Regions from separate parts of the Homo sapiens genome. Here all the other regions are reported to be linked to region 1. The links are microRNA targets in miRTarBase. Many come from high-throughput screens and were not tested one by one. Region 1 holds a microRNA gene; each other region holds the end of a gene's coding sequence.

Region 1 (4,500 bases):
AAAGCAGAGTAGGGGGCAGAAATCTTCCAGATCAGAGCACGGGCTCTGGGATCTGGGTGGGGGGCAGGGGGAAGCAGCTCCTAGGGTCTCTGAAAAACAGATGGGCTGGGGCAGGAGTGGTCGCCTGTGGTCCCCCTGTGGTGCTGGCCAGGGTAGAGGGGGACAGAGAATTCCCAGGTCAGGACAGGAGCAGTCCCTGAGGACCGTGAAGCAGGCTAGAGAAGCAGAAGCGCCCTAGGTCAGAGTAAGAAGAGCTCTCAGTTTGGGATGAGGAAGCTGCAATCCCTTGGCTCAGGGCATGAGCAGCCCCCAGCGTGTCTGCGGTGTGGGCCAGGGCTCAGGGACTGTACCTTTCCTCTGGCGCTGGGCCCGGCCCAGAGAAGTCTCATCCCCACTGGTCAGGGCCGGGTCTGGCTGGTTGTTGTTAGCTGCATCCTTGCTGGTGTCCAGCCCCAGGCGCCTTTCAGAGCCCCAAGTCTGCAGAGCACAGGGGGCTGCCTCGCACTCCCCCAGGGCTGGCCAGTAGGACAGGAGGTCATTGCCATCCACATCTGTGGAGCCAGGTCAGGTTACAGGAGCTTCTGGGTTGATCCCAGTGACTCATGACCCCTGACCCTAATGACCCTTGAAACCCTGGCTGTTCTCATTGAGCAGAGGTGGGAACAGGAGGGTATCTCCTCAGAGATCAATGGGTGGGGGTGACTGGTGAGCTCCCTCCCCTTAACTGGAGGTGGACAGAGACTAAAAGTTGGGGAACCTGATGACTGAGGGGTCAGAAAGACCAGGATGAACCCCAACCGCAGGAAAGATGGGGAGCTGGAGGGATAACAAATGGGGCATCCCTTGGTCACCCAAGGGGTCAGAGGGCGCCTGGCACCTTTGGGGTGGGTGAGGAGCCTCTCACTCTGGGCTGCTCGGCAGAGTGGCCGTTGGAAGCGCCCCCGCGTCCGGCCATTGTCCTCGCTTTCTGAAGATGGAATGGAGAGACTCCTCTCCTCCTCCAAGGACAGGTCACTGTCAGAGTCGGAGTCTGCGCCTGGAGTTGGGAAAGTCAGAAGTACTTTCAGAGGTAAGGGACTTGGAGATAAGGGAATTTGGAGTTGAGGGTCTAGAGGTGGGTACGGCAAGGGGGTTAGGGTTGGGGACAGGAACCGGGGCTTGAAGTGGAGGTAGCAGCAGAAGGGCTGGGACTTATCAGAGGGAAGGACGAATCAGGAGTGGACTGGGAGAACCAGGGCTGGAGAGGTAGGTGCCTCCTGAGGCAGGGACCCTGGGGGAGATCGTCCCACCCCAGTCAGCCACTGCTCCCAGTATGGGGTAGAAGAAAAGGGGATGGGGAGAGATCCTCTGCCTCCCTCCTCCCTGCCCCAGGCCCCAACTCCACCAGCATCTCGATGGAACATGGCCACGTCCAGGTCAGTGGGGCCAGCATGAGCCTGGAGGCTGTGGTCAGTGTGGTCAGCGGCTGAGCCATGTCGAACCAGGACATTGTCCCTGGAAAAGCAGGAGCCCCCCCACCATGAAAGAGGGATGTGATGGGGTGCCTTGGAGGCTGGAGTGTCTTTGAGTGCACAGCCAGCTGCGGGTGGAATGGCATCCCTGGGTGTGTGTGGTGGGAAGCATTTAGGGCAGAGGCAGAAGCAGGGCCCCAGATGGCCAAGATGGGTGGAGCCACCCGCCCTAGGACCTGGTCAGCCAAGCCCTGGTAAGGTGGGGCTGGACTAAGCTGAGTGTTCCCTCACAAGGAGGCTCTTCCTCTCACCTGAGGTAGCTGCGGCCCCGCTGGCTGTCCTGGTCCTGGGTCCGGCCGGAGCGGGCACTGCTCACAGAGGAGACGGTGGAGGCGCCCAGAGTGATGCGGATGAGGCCACTCTCCTCAAAGAGAGCCGTGTTGTTGTAGGCCCCAGGTCCCTGGGGGTGGTAGGGACAGAGTGTGAGCTAACCCTGAAGCAGCCTAAAACTCTGGCTTCTCAGGGCCCCCATCCCGACTCACCAGCCCAGGTGCTGGCCTTGCCTCCTCAGGCGCTGCCTTCCTGCCCAGACAGGCTGGCATCCAGGCAGCCCGAGCATCTGCATTTAGGACACAGAAGAGCAGCAGCACCGCCAGGCCCTGTGGGTCAGCGAGGGTCAAAGCAGAGTCGGCAGGGATCAATCAGGGACCAGTATAAGTCACTGTGGGTCAGCAATGGGGTCAGTCACTGTAGGCTAGTGTGGGTCAGTGAGGAGCCCATGCGGGACTCAGTAAGGGAGTTGGGGAAGGTCAGCAGGGGAGAGGATGGAGCAGCAGGAGTGGCTGGAGTCTGTAAGGTCGGTGTGGATCAGCAAGGGGTCGGGAGCCTTGGTGTTGGTGAAGGTCGATCCAAGATCAGCACTCAGTCTGGGATCAGTGCCTAAGTTAGAGTCAGCTCCAGGCCTGGGGGCAGCAGCTAGGGCCAGTGTCTGGTCTGGGGTAGTACCCAGCCTGGCAAAGTTATCCAGTAAGAGTCAGCTCCAGGCCTAGGGTCAACGTCTGCCTAGGGATGGCCCCAGCCTACTGAAGGCCCACCTGGTTCTGGGGCAAGGGAGGGGCACCAGAGTCACCTGGAGGCCGCAGAGTCCAGCATGGAGGTAGTGGAAGGCTAGGATGCTGTGGTTGACTGCCAGGAGCCCAAAGAGCCAGGAGGCACTGACCAGCAGAAGCAGCAGGAAGGAGCTGCGAAGGGTCCTGCTGTGGGGACATGGGAAGACACAGGAGGACATGCAAGGCTCATGTAGGACTCATGCAGGGAACACGGGAGGACACACAGGGGCCACACACGAAACGTGAAAAAAAGGAACTCACACGGGAACATGGAGGTCTCTGGAGGACACTGGGGGAGATGGGAGGTCCCACAAAGAAACAGGAGAGCAGTCAAAGAGCCATGAGGACACGTGGGGAAAACACAGGGGTATGGGAGCCACAAGGGAGGGCACGGAAGACAGGTGGGAACACACAGGGCAGGGGGCAAAGTGAGCCACCCAGGCCATGGGAGACTCTGGGGGGACCCAGAGGACAAGGAGAGACAGCAGGGCAGAAGCACATGTGGGGCTACAGTATAGCGAGGGCGCCAGAGAGGGACCACAGGTCAGGGCAGGTGTGACTTCATTCCTTCATCTAGAACTTGGAGCCCAACCTGCACCAGGGAAGATCTGGGGGCCCCAGACCCCACCCAGGAGGGACCTGCCATCCTGAGAAGCCCCCTTCCTCCAGCCAGCCAACTCACAGTGCAGAGGTCTTCTTGGCCTCCCTCTGCCCTGTGGAGCAGGATGTGCGGGCAGCGAGGAGAAACATGGTCCCGTTCATCTGGACCCACGGCCAGACATGTGGGGCCGGGCAGGGCAGAGAGAGAGAGAGAGAGAGAGGCAATGAGAGACAGAGAGAGACTAAGATTCACGGAGAGAGGCAGAACCAGTGAGAAATTCACACATATACACACACACCAAAGGAGCTTAGCATCACAGAAAAAGAAATTGGGAACCAGAGAGGGACTGAGAGAGAGAAGCAGAGACAGAGGCAGGGACAGGCAACTGAATCTCTGACCCCGCGCCCCCATCTCCATGCCAGTTGAATGGGGGTGGCTACTGACCAGAGGACAGAAAAAATGAAGGCCGAGCCCAGGAAGCCTGCAGAATGCCACCTGACCGCCCTCAGCTGAGTCCACTGCACCTCCTCCCCCAATGAGGGAGGGAAGTACAGAGGGGGCACCAAGTCCAGGGCACTCACCACTATGACCAGGACAACAGGGCCAGCAAAGCTCCAGATGAGGGGCTCGTGGACTGAGATCCAGCAGAAGTCAGGGTTCCCATAGCCCTCAGGGTCCAGGCCCACAGCAAGGCCTTGGGAAGAGAAAGGGTAGGACTGAGGGTGTGTGTTCCAGAGCTGCTGACCAGCCCATGTATGGGAGAAAGCATGGGTGAGGGCAGAGCAGCAACCCCATGAATAGATGGCTTGGGGTTTGAGGTTGGGGGTCATGAGCAGGAGTGGGGACAGGGTCAGGGGTCAGGCCATGTGATGGTTGGAGGTTGGGGGTCACAGCCCTCACCCAGCAGCACAGCAGGGACGCCCCAGCCCAGGGCATGGTAGAAGCGCATGGCGCCGCGGTCCACGTTGCGTGGCTCAACCTGCATGCGGTAGAGGTGCAGCCCCTGCACGAAGAGCCACGCGAAGGTGCTGAGGAAGAAGTAGTGCAGGAGGATGGCGACTGCAGTGCACACCAGCTGAGGGCAGGGGGGCGTGTCAGGACCTCTCCTGCCTCACCCACCTCTGACCCCTACCCCAGGCATCTGCTTCCCACCTCTCACCCCTAAACCACAATATCTTACCCCAGCATCCTGCTGAAAACCCTGGCCCCAACCTGAGCATCCCTGACCTCTGACCCTGAGTTTTGGCCCCAGGCCTCCTGGGCCAGTAGGGTCATCAGGACACAAGTTCCCTGGCCCTGATCCTGCACCTGATTGTGGGTCCTGTGAATCCCCAGCAGG
Region 2 (3,965 bases), not on the chromosome of region 1:
GCGACAGAGCGAGACTCCGTCTCAAAAATAAAATAAAATAAAATAAATAAATAAATCCTGTTCTAATGTCTCAGCAGAGTCTGGCCAAAAGTAGACTAGTGGTTGCCAGAGGGGCTGGGGCCTGGTGGGAGGGAGGGGATTAGAGTGACAGCTAATGCGTATGGGGTTTCTCTCCGGGGCAGTGGGGGCAGAGGGGGACAAAAAATGTTCCAAAATTAGATTGTGGTGATGGTTACACAGCCCTATGAATATGATTTTTAAAAAATCATTGATGCACAGGGACGGGCGCACAAGGCTGTGAGTTCAACCTGCGCTGTGAATTGTGTAATATGTTGACTATCGCAATAAAGCTGTTTTTAAAAGACTTGTCAATTATTTGCAATGAATGGACCTGATGTCGATCTTAGTCGAAACAAGCACACTCTAATCAAGGCAAGCTGAACATTAAGTGGATATCTGATGATATAAAGGAATGATCATTGATAATTTTATGTGTAATAATTTTTTTGTTGTTGTTGAGTCCTTATCTTTTAGAGATATACATGGAAATACATATGGATGAAATGCTCTGATGTCTGAGATCTACTTTAAAAACTGGTGGAGTGGATACAGGGAGTGGGTGAGCTATGAAGACTGGCTCACATCAAAACCGGCTCAGCGACTCACTATACCATCTTCTCTGCTCTTGTATGTTTCAAATTTTCCACAACTAACAAGATTTAAAACAATCAATCTAGAGGTGAACAAATGCATCTATAAGGAGAGCAGACCCATCACAGAAAATACATAACACACAAGGCCAGTAAGTATTTGAAAAGAGGCACAACCTCCAGAGTAACTAAAGAAATGCAAATGCAATTGGGGAAACATTTTGCACCTAGTGCGTGACAGAGGTTAAAACCTCTGATGATGCCCAGGGCTCACCTGGGGAGCAGGTGCTCACATCTTGTGATGGTGCCTGTGGAGAGACACAACCTCTACTATCATTTTATTTTAGTGTTTTCTTTTTATTGAGACGGAGTCTTGCTCTTGTTGCCCAGGCTGGAGTGCAATGGCGTGATCTTGGCTCACTGCAACCTCTACTTCCCGGGTTCAAGCGATTCTCCTGCCTCAGCCTCCTGAGCTGCTGGGATTACAGGCACCCGCCACCATGCCAGGTCAATTTTTTGTATTTTTAGTAGAGATGGGGTTTCACTATGTTGGCCAGGCTGGTCTTGAATTCCGGACCTCAGGTGATCCGCCCGCCTCAGCCTCCCGAAGTGCTGGGATTACAGGTGTGAGCCACCACGCCCGAATTCCTCTTGTAGGGATGTATGCATCAGATACACTTGCATAAATATGCACAGAAGTATGTTCAATGATGCTCTCGAAGCAGTATTTGTGGGGGTAAAAACAGGAAGCCACCCAACAATGTAGCCACAAGGAAGGAGGCAGATCCATGTGTACTAGACAGCCTTGGAGCCCTGTGGCATCCATTTGTCATTAAAGGGTAAGATGCAAGGTTCAGAGTAGTGTGCACAACATGATCCCTTTCAGGTTAAAATATAATTAACAGTCAACAAACTTATGGATACCATGAATAAAAGATATCAGTCCAGCTTCTTTAAAAAGTCAATACTGATGACCTCTGGAGACTAGGGATGGGTTCTTTGGGGTGGAAGGAGGATGATGGTTTACTTTTCACCATGTGCACTTGTGTGTGTTTTTAAAAATGTTTTGTAGAGATGAGCTCTCCCTGTATTGCCCAGGCTGGTCTCAAACTCCTGACTTCAAGTGAACCTCCTTGCCTTGACCTCCCAAAGCGCTGGGATTATTACAGGTGTGAGTGACTGCACCAGGCCTTCTGTATGCTTTTTTATCATAAGGATGTCTTCCAAGTGTCCGCCTGTACCCCCCCAAAAAATGGGCAGAGAACTCAAGAGGGCAGTTCTTCGTGGTCAAGTGGATACAATGTTCACCTGCTAACATTACAGTAAAGAACCTCCCTCCTCCCTGGGTACCCAGTGCACCAGCAAGGAGTTCAGCCTTCTGGGGATGATGCAGCACATACATGCAAGTGCAGGGCCCTCCCTGCCTCTTTTGCACACTGACAGCATATCACACATGGCGTTTCACACCATGCTTCTTTGTATTTAATGTCTATCTTGAGGAGCTTCTCAATGGCTATATCTACAGAGTGGGAAAAACTATTTGCAAACCATGTATCTGGTAAAGGGTTACTATCTGTCTCAACTTGGGCTGTTCTAACAAAATACCACAGACTGGGTAGCTTAAACAACAGGCATTTATTTCTCACAGCTCTGGAGGCTGGGAAGTCCAAGATGGTGGCTCCAGCAGATTCAGTGTCTGGTGAGGGGGGCTTCCTGGTTCACAGATGGTAGCTTCTAGCTGTGTCCTCACATGGCAGGAGGGGCAAAAGAGCTCCCTCGGGCATCTTTTATAAGAGCACTAATTCTATGCAAGAGGGCAGAGTCCTCAGGACCTAATCGCTTCCCTAAACTGTTGACCTTAGGGATGAGAGTTCAATATACGAATTTTTGGGGGACACAAACATTCAGGCCACAGCAGTATCCAAACTATATAAGGGACTCAAGTCAACAACAAAGAACAAATGACCCGGTGTATGCAAAAATGCTCAGTATCACCAACCGTTAGGGAAATGCAAATCAAAACCGCAATGAGAGAGATCACCTCATACCTGTTAGGATAGCTGTTATTAAAAAACACAAGATAAAGAATGTTGGCAACAATGTGGAGAAAAGGGAACCCTAGTGAACTGTTGGTGAGAATGGAAATTAGTACAGCCTTTATGGAAAACAGTATGGCGGTTCCTCAAAAAATTAAAAATAGAACCACCATTTGATGCAGCAATCCCACTTCTGGGTATACATATAAAAAAGAGATGAAATCATTATCTTCAAAAGATAGCTATACTCCCATGTTTACTGCAGCATTTCCACAACTGCCAAACTATGAAAACGACCTAAGTGTCTATTGGTGGACGGATTGGTAAGAAAATGTGGCATGTTATTTTTTACAAGGAAAGAAATCCTATCATTTGCAATAACATGGAGGAACCTGGAGAACATTATGTTAATAGAAATAAGCCAGACACAAAACAAATACCACATGATGCCACTTACATGAGGAATCAGCTGCTGAGCACTGGGTGTGGCCTGTCCCCTCCGCGTTGGCACACTGGCGGCTTCCACTCAGTGAGTTAACTTGGTGGGCTGCCCCTGACACAGGCTGGCCCTGCTACCCACATCTGCCTGCTGAAGAGCTCATATGACCCTCACTCTTGAGGGGACGTTAGCATCAAATCTCTCTCTCTGTTAACCCCCACACTGACTCCAGGCCCAAGCACGTCCCACAGCCATCAGGTCCCCACCCAAAGGGATCCCATGGGCTTTGCCCTGCAGACTTGGCCTGACCACTCAGAGGCAGGCGGGGCCATGACACAGACGGTTTATTCAGACCTCTCCACCCGCCACAGTTCCACATCCCAGTTCAGCAGGCCATTCTGTGACAGTTCCTACTGGTGGGTCTGTCTATGACAGCCCCATCCTGAGTTCCAAGTCCATGTCCTGACTGAGTGGTGAGTGTGCTCACTCGGTGCTCAGGAAGACTCTCTTGCGTGCGGTATTGGTGTAAGGGTGCCAGCGCCACTCCACGTCTGCTGTGGCCTCCTGCTCCAGCGTGCCCAGACGGATCATGTACACTGCAGGCAGGGATGGCATCAGCCCCGGCACAGCCAGCCTCCCCTCCCCACCCCAGACACGGGATTCAGCCTCAAACTCACGCTTCAGCTCAAAGCGGGGCCCGACCTCAGTGAGCTCCACGTTGCGGTGGTCTGTCTTCTTATACACATGGTGCCTGGGAGGGAACAGCTGTGGGTCAACGGCAAGCAGCACGAGGTACACAGGGTGGGGATGCTTTCCTGGGGCATGGCCCGTGGACCCACC
Region 3 (3,965 bases), not on the chromosome of region 1:
TTTTTTTCTGAGACGAAGTCTTGCTCTGTTGCCCAGGCTGGAGTGCAGTGGCATGATCTCGGCTCATTGCAACCTCCGCCTCCTGGGTTCAAGCGATTCTCTTGCCTCAGTCTCCCACCTCCCAAGTAGCTGGGATTACAGGCATGTGCCACCACACCCAGCTAATTTTTGTATTTTTAGTAGAGACGGGGTTTCACCATGTTGGTCAGGCTGGTCTCGAACTTCTTACCTTGTGATCCACCTGCCTCAGCCTCCCAAAGTGCTGGGATTACAGGCATGAGCCACCGTGCCTGGCCAAGTTTTTACTTTTGATAAATATTTGCTAGTCATCAAGGTGACAGCAGTTCTTAATACAGGTTTTCCTTTTATTAATTGCCTTAAACATTTTCCAGCTTTAAAATTCTGTCATTACAGGTTTTGAAATCTAAGTTTTTCTCTTATCAGGTAAACACTCGATAATCTGGATAACTGACTAGCACCATTATGATCACCAGTATTGTGGCTGGAATGGAAGAAGATCACCTTGGTGTTCCTTGTTTGGAAGATTATTTCCTCTGAATTTCTGGGCTTGGTCTTCCAGTTGGCATTTGCCTGAAGTTGTATTGAAACAATTTAATGAAAATATTAAATATTTGGTTTCAAAAGGCAGATTTATCTTCTCCCAACATTCTGTTATTTCTGATACTTTTGAAAAACTAATAAAAACTAATAAAAGAAGCGTAAAAAGTGAGTTTACATGTTGAGGAAAAAAATGGCCCAATATGCTCATCACTGATAAATGCTCCCTGGCCTTAAAAACTACCAACATATAATATATATGCTGTCTTAAAAGTTAATGATCCAAGTGGCACCTCTCTGAACCTACTTTGGCTTGGGAGGCTGCCCAGTTAAAACAAAAATAAGTTAATGGTACAGAAAGAGAATGAAAAATGAAAGCCTCCTTTTATCCTATCATCCTAATTCCTTTTCCCAGTAATAATGACTGCTGTGTTGGATTCCTTCTGCAAATAAAAGTGTATACATATATGTAGCAAATCTTACTTAAACAAAAGGGTTTCTTAACTAATGTCTTGTTCCAGTGATTTTAAACATCTTGATTGCCACTGTCCTGATCTAAGCATCAGTGTCATCTCACCATGAAGAGTGTCAAATCTGTAACTAGTCTCTTCCCTTTAGCCACCTTCCAATCTATTTATTTCGCACATATTGAAGTCTAGTGATTTTTTTTTTTTTAGAGAAAAGCTCATCACCCAGGCTGGAGTGCAGTGGCGTGATCATAGGTCACTGCAGCCTTGAACTCCTGGACTTGAGCTAAGAATAAAGAATCCTGCTTTATTCTTTAGAATAGCTACAGCTACAGGTATGTGCCACCATCCCTATATATATATGTGTGTGTATATATATATATATATATATTTTTTTTTTTTTTTTTCAGAAATGGGATCCCACTATGTTGCCCAGGCTGGTTTTGAACTCCTGGCCTTAAACAGTCCTGCCTTGGTCTTCTAAAGCCCTGGGATTAAAGGCACTTAGTCAAGCACTCTTTTTGTAAAAGCTTTCATACCTTTGAGTAAAGGCTAGACCTTTTAAGGTCGATCAAAAGTTTGGCCTAAACAATCTGGTATTTCAGCTACCATCTCCTTGAGTATTTCACAAGGAGTTTCATGAAAGCAACTAGGCCCCTCTAGCATTGTGGAGAAAGGATTTCAGCCAAACAGTCTGAAGCTCCTTTTGTGTTCATCATGAAACTGAAATAGTTAACTAACTTGGTAAGTGTCTAATATTTTTAGATAAAGATTTCTGTATTATCTGGAATTTAGTACTTCAATTTATTCCTCACTTTGATAAGAACGTGAAATATGTTAATTCTAGCTGCCATAAAACAGTTGAATCAGGTATATCCTAAAATCATAAGTCAAAATACCTAATCCATATTTAAACATCTGTCAGTTACTCAGCACAAGATGTTTTTTTTTTCAGTGGCAGTGCCTTGCCATGTTGCTTCGGCAGGAGTGGTGGCTATTCATGTGTGAAGATCATAGCTCACTATAACTTCAAACTCCTGGGCTCAAGTTTGCCACAGCCTCCCAAGTAACTAGCACTACAGGCCTGTGCCACTGCACCCAGATAGCAGAAAGTTTTTTTTGTTTGTTTTTTTGAGACAGAGTCTCGCTCTCACCCAGGCTGGAGTGCAATGGTGCCATCTTGGCTTACCACAACCTCCGCCTCCCAGGTTTAAAGCAGTTCTGCCTCAGTCTTCCGAGTAGCTGGGATTATAGGTGCACGCTGCCACACCCGGCCAGTTTTTGTATTTTTAGTAGAGATGGGGTTTTACCGTGTTGGCCAGGCTGGTCTTGAACTCCTGACCTCGTGATCCGCACATCTCGGCTTCCCAAAGTGCTGGGATTACAGGCATGAGTCACCATGCCCAGCCAAGTGTTTTTGTTTTATGTGTTTTGACACAGGGTCTTGCTCTGTCGCCCAGGCTGGAATGCATTGGCACAACTATGGCTCACTACAGCCTCAACTTTCCAAGGCTCAAGCAGTCCTTCCACCTCAGCCTCCCTAGTAGCTGGGACTACAGGCGCACACCACCATGCCTGGCTAATTTTTGTATTTTTTTTTCACAGAGACGAGGTCTCGCTGTGTTACCCAGGCTGGCGTTTAATTCCTGGGCTCAAGCTATCCTTACCTTGGCTTCCCAAAGTGCTAGGATTACAGGCATGAGCCACCATGCCCAGCCTAACAGCACAAAGCTTTTTGTTCATAGGTTATGCCTAAATAATACAAATAGTGTGTATAGCAGCATTCTTCGAATTCTTCCAGCCGGACGTGGTTGCTCACGCTTGTAATCCCAGCACTTTGGGAGGCCGAGGCGGGTGGATCACAAGGTCAGGAGTTTGAGACCAGCCTGGCCAACATGGTGAAACCCCGTCTCTACTAAAGGTAGGAAAAAAAAAAAAGCCGGGCATAGTGGCAGGCACCTGTAATCCCAGCTACTGGGGAGGTTTCAAGAGTAGTATGAACATTGTATTACCCTCCACTTAGATTTAGCTATTAATTGACCTTTTGTTACATAGTTAGGTAACAGAAGTCATTGCAGTATGCAAAATGGAGACAACACCCAAAAACTTTAGCACAAAGGAAGCCTAATAAGTTTTACCCATGTTAAATGGTTATGAAGTACTGTATTAATACGTCCATCTCAAGAAAAAAGAAAACAATTGTAAGAAAACAGTTCTGTAATGTCCAACACCCAATCCGTGTTCAGATTTTTCTGACAATCTCTAGAGCAGGGGTGTCCAATCTTTTGGCTTCCCTGGGCCACGTTGGAAGAAGAATTCTCTTGGGCCAAACCATAAAATACACTAATACTAACAATAGCTAATGAGCTAAAAAAAAAAAAAATACATATATAAAATGTTTTAAGAAAATTTACGAATTTGTGTTGGGTCACATTCAAAGCTGTCCTGGGCTGCTTGTGGCTTGTGGGCTGCAGGTTAGACAAGCTTGCTCTAGAGTGTCTTTTTTTTTTTTTTAATTTTTTTGAGATGGAGTTTTGCTCTTGTCGCCCAGGCTGGAGTGCAATGGTGTGATCTCAGCTCACTGCAACTTCCGCCTCCCAGGTTCAAGCCATTCTCGTGCTTCGGCCTCCCTAGTAGCTGGGATTACAGGCACGTGCCACCACATCTAGCTCATTTTTGGTTTTTTGTTTTTTTTTTTTCAGTAGAGACGGGGTGTCACCATGTTGCCTAGGCTGGTCTTGAACTCCTGACCACAGTTGATCCACCTGCCTCAGCCTCCCAAAATACTGGGATTACAGGTGTGAGCCACCATGCCCAGCCTGAGCCCACACCCAGCCACCTTTTTCTTACTCAGCCTCTCAACAGATTGGATGATGCTGACCAGCACTGGGGAGGGCTATCTGCTTTATTCAGTCCACCAATTCAAATGTTAAATCTCCT

What was found. The annotated mature microRNA hsa-miR-4793-3p reads UCUGCACUGUGAGUUGGCUGGCU and lies in region 1 at 3,228-3,250, opposite strand. An mRNA with a match to its seed (bases 2 to 7 or 8) in the 3' UTR can be bound and repressed. Matches are read on the target gene's strand: a 7mer-m8 pairs with bases 2 to 8, a 7mer-A1 pairs with bases 2 to 7 and ends in A, and an 8mer does both.
Region 2: the mRNA of IMP4 is a reported target of hsa-miR-4793-3p. The part of its 3' UTR that is shown has no 7-base or 8-base seed match.
Region 3: the mRNA of CCT4 is a reported target of hsa-miR-4793-3p. The part of its 3' UTR that is shown has no 7-base or 8-base seed match.

Annotation. Positions count from the first base shown.
Region 1 is chr3:48,640,974-48,645,473 of GRCh38, forward strand. It overlaps MIR4793 (microRNA 4793), which reads right to left and starts at 3,307; the gene lies at 3,221-3,307. CELSR3 (cadherin EGF LAG seven-pass G-type receptor 3) reads right to left here. Exons shown (of 35, transcript NM_001407.3): 24 at 4,470-4,500; 25 at 4,062-4,236; 26 at 3,743-3,855; 27 at 3,243-3,322; 28 at 2,581-2,704; 29 at 1,994-2,110; 30 at 1,763-1,911; 31 at 1,385-1,494; 32 at 878-1,036; 33 at 351-551.
Region 2 is chr2:130,346,112-130,350,076 of GRCh38, reverse strand. It overlaps IMP4 (IMP U3 small nucleolar ribonucleoprotein 4), which reads right to left. Exons shown (of 9, transcript NM_033416.3): 7 at 3,965; 8 at 3,803-3,876; 9 at 2,110-3,721. The coding sequence ends at 3,609. Among named protein-coding and RNA genes, the nearest start is that of IMP4, 5.2 kb to the right of the region's middle.
Region 3 is chr2:61,865,186-61,869,150 of GRCh38, reverse strand. It overlaps CCT4 (chaperonin containing TCP1 subunit 4), which reads left to right. Exons shown (of 14, transcript NM_006430.4): 14 at 445-1,066. The coding sequence ends at 459. Among named protein-coding and RNA genes, the nearest start is that of FAM161A, 13 kb to the right of the region's middle.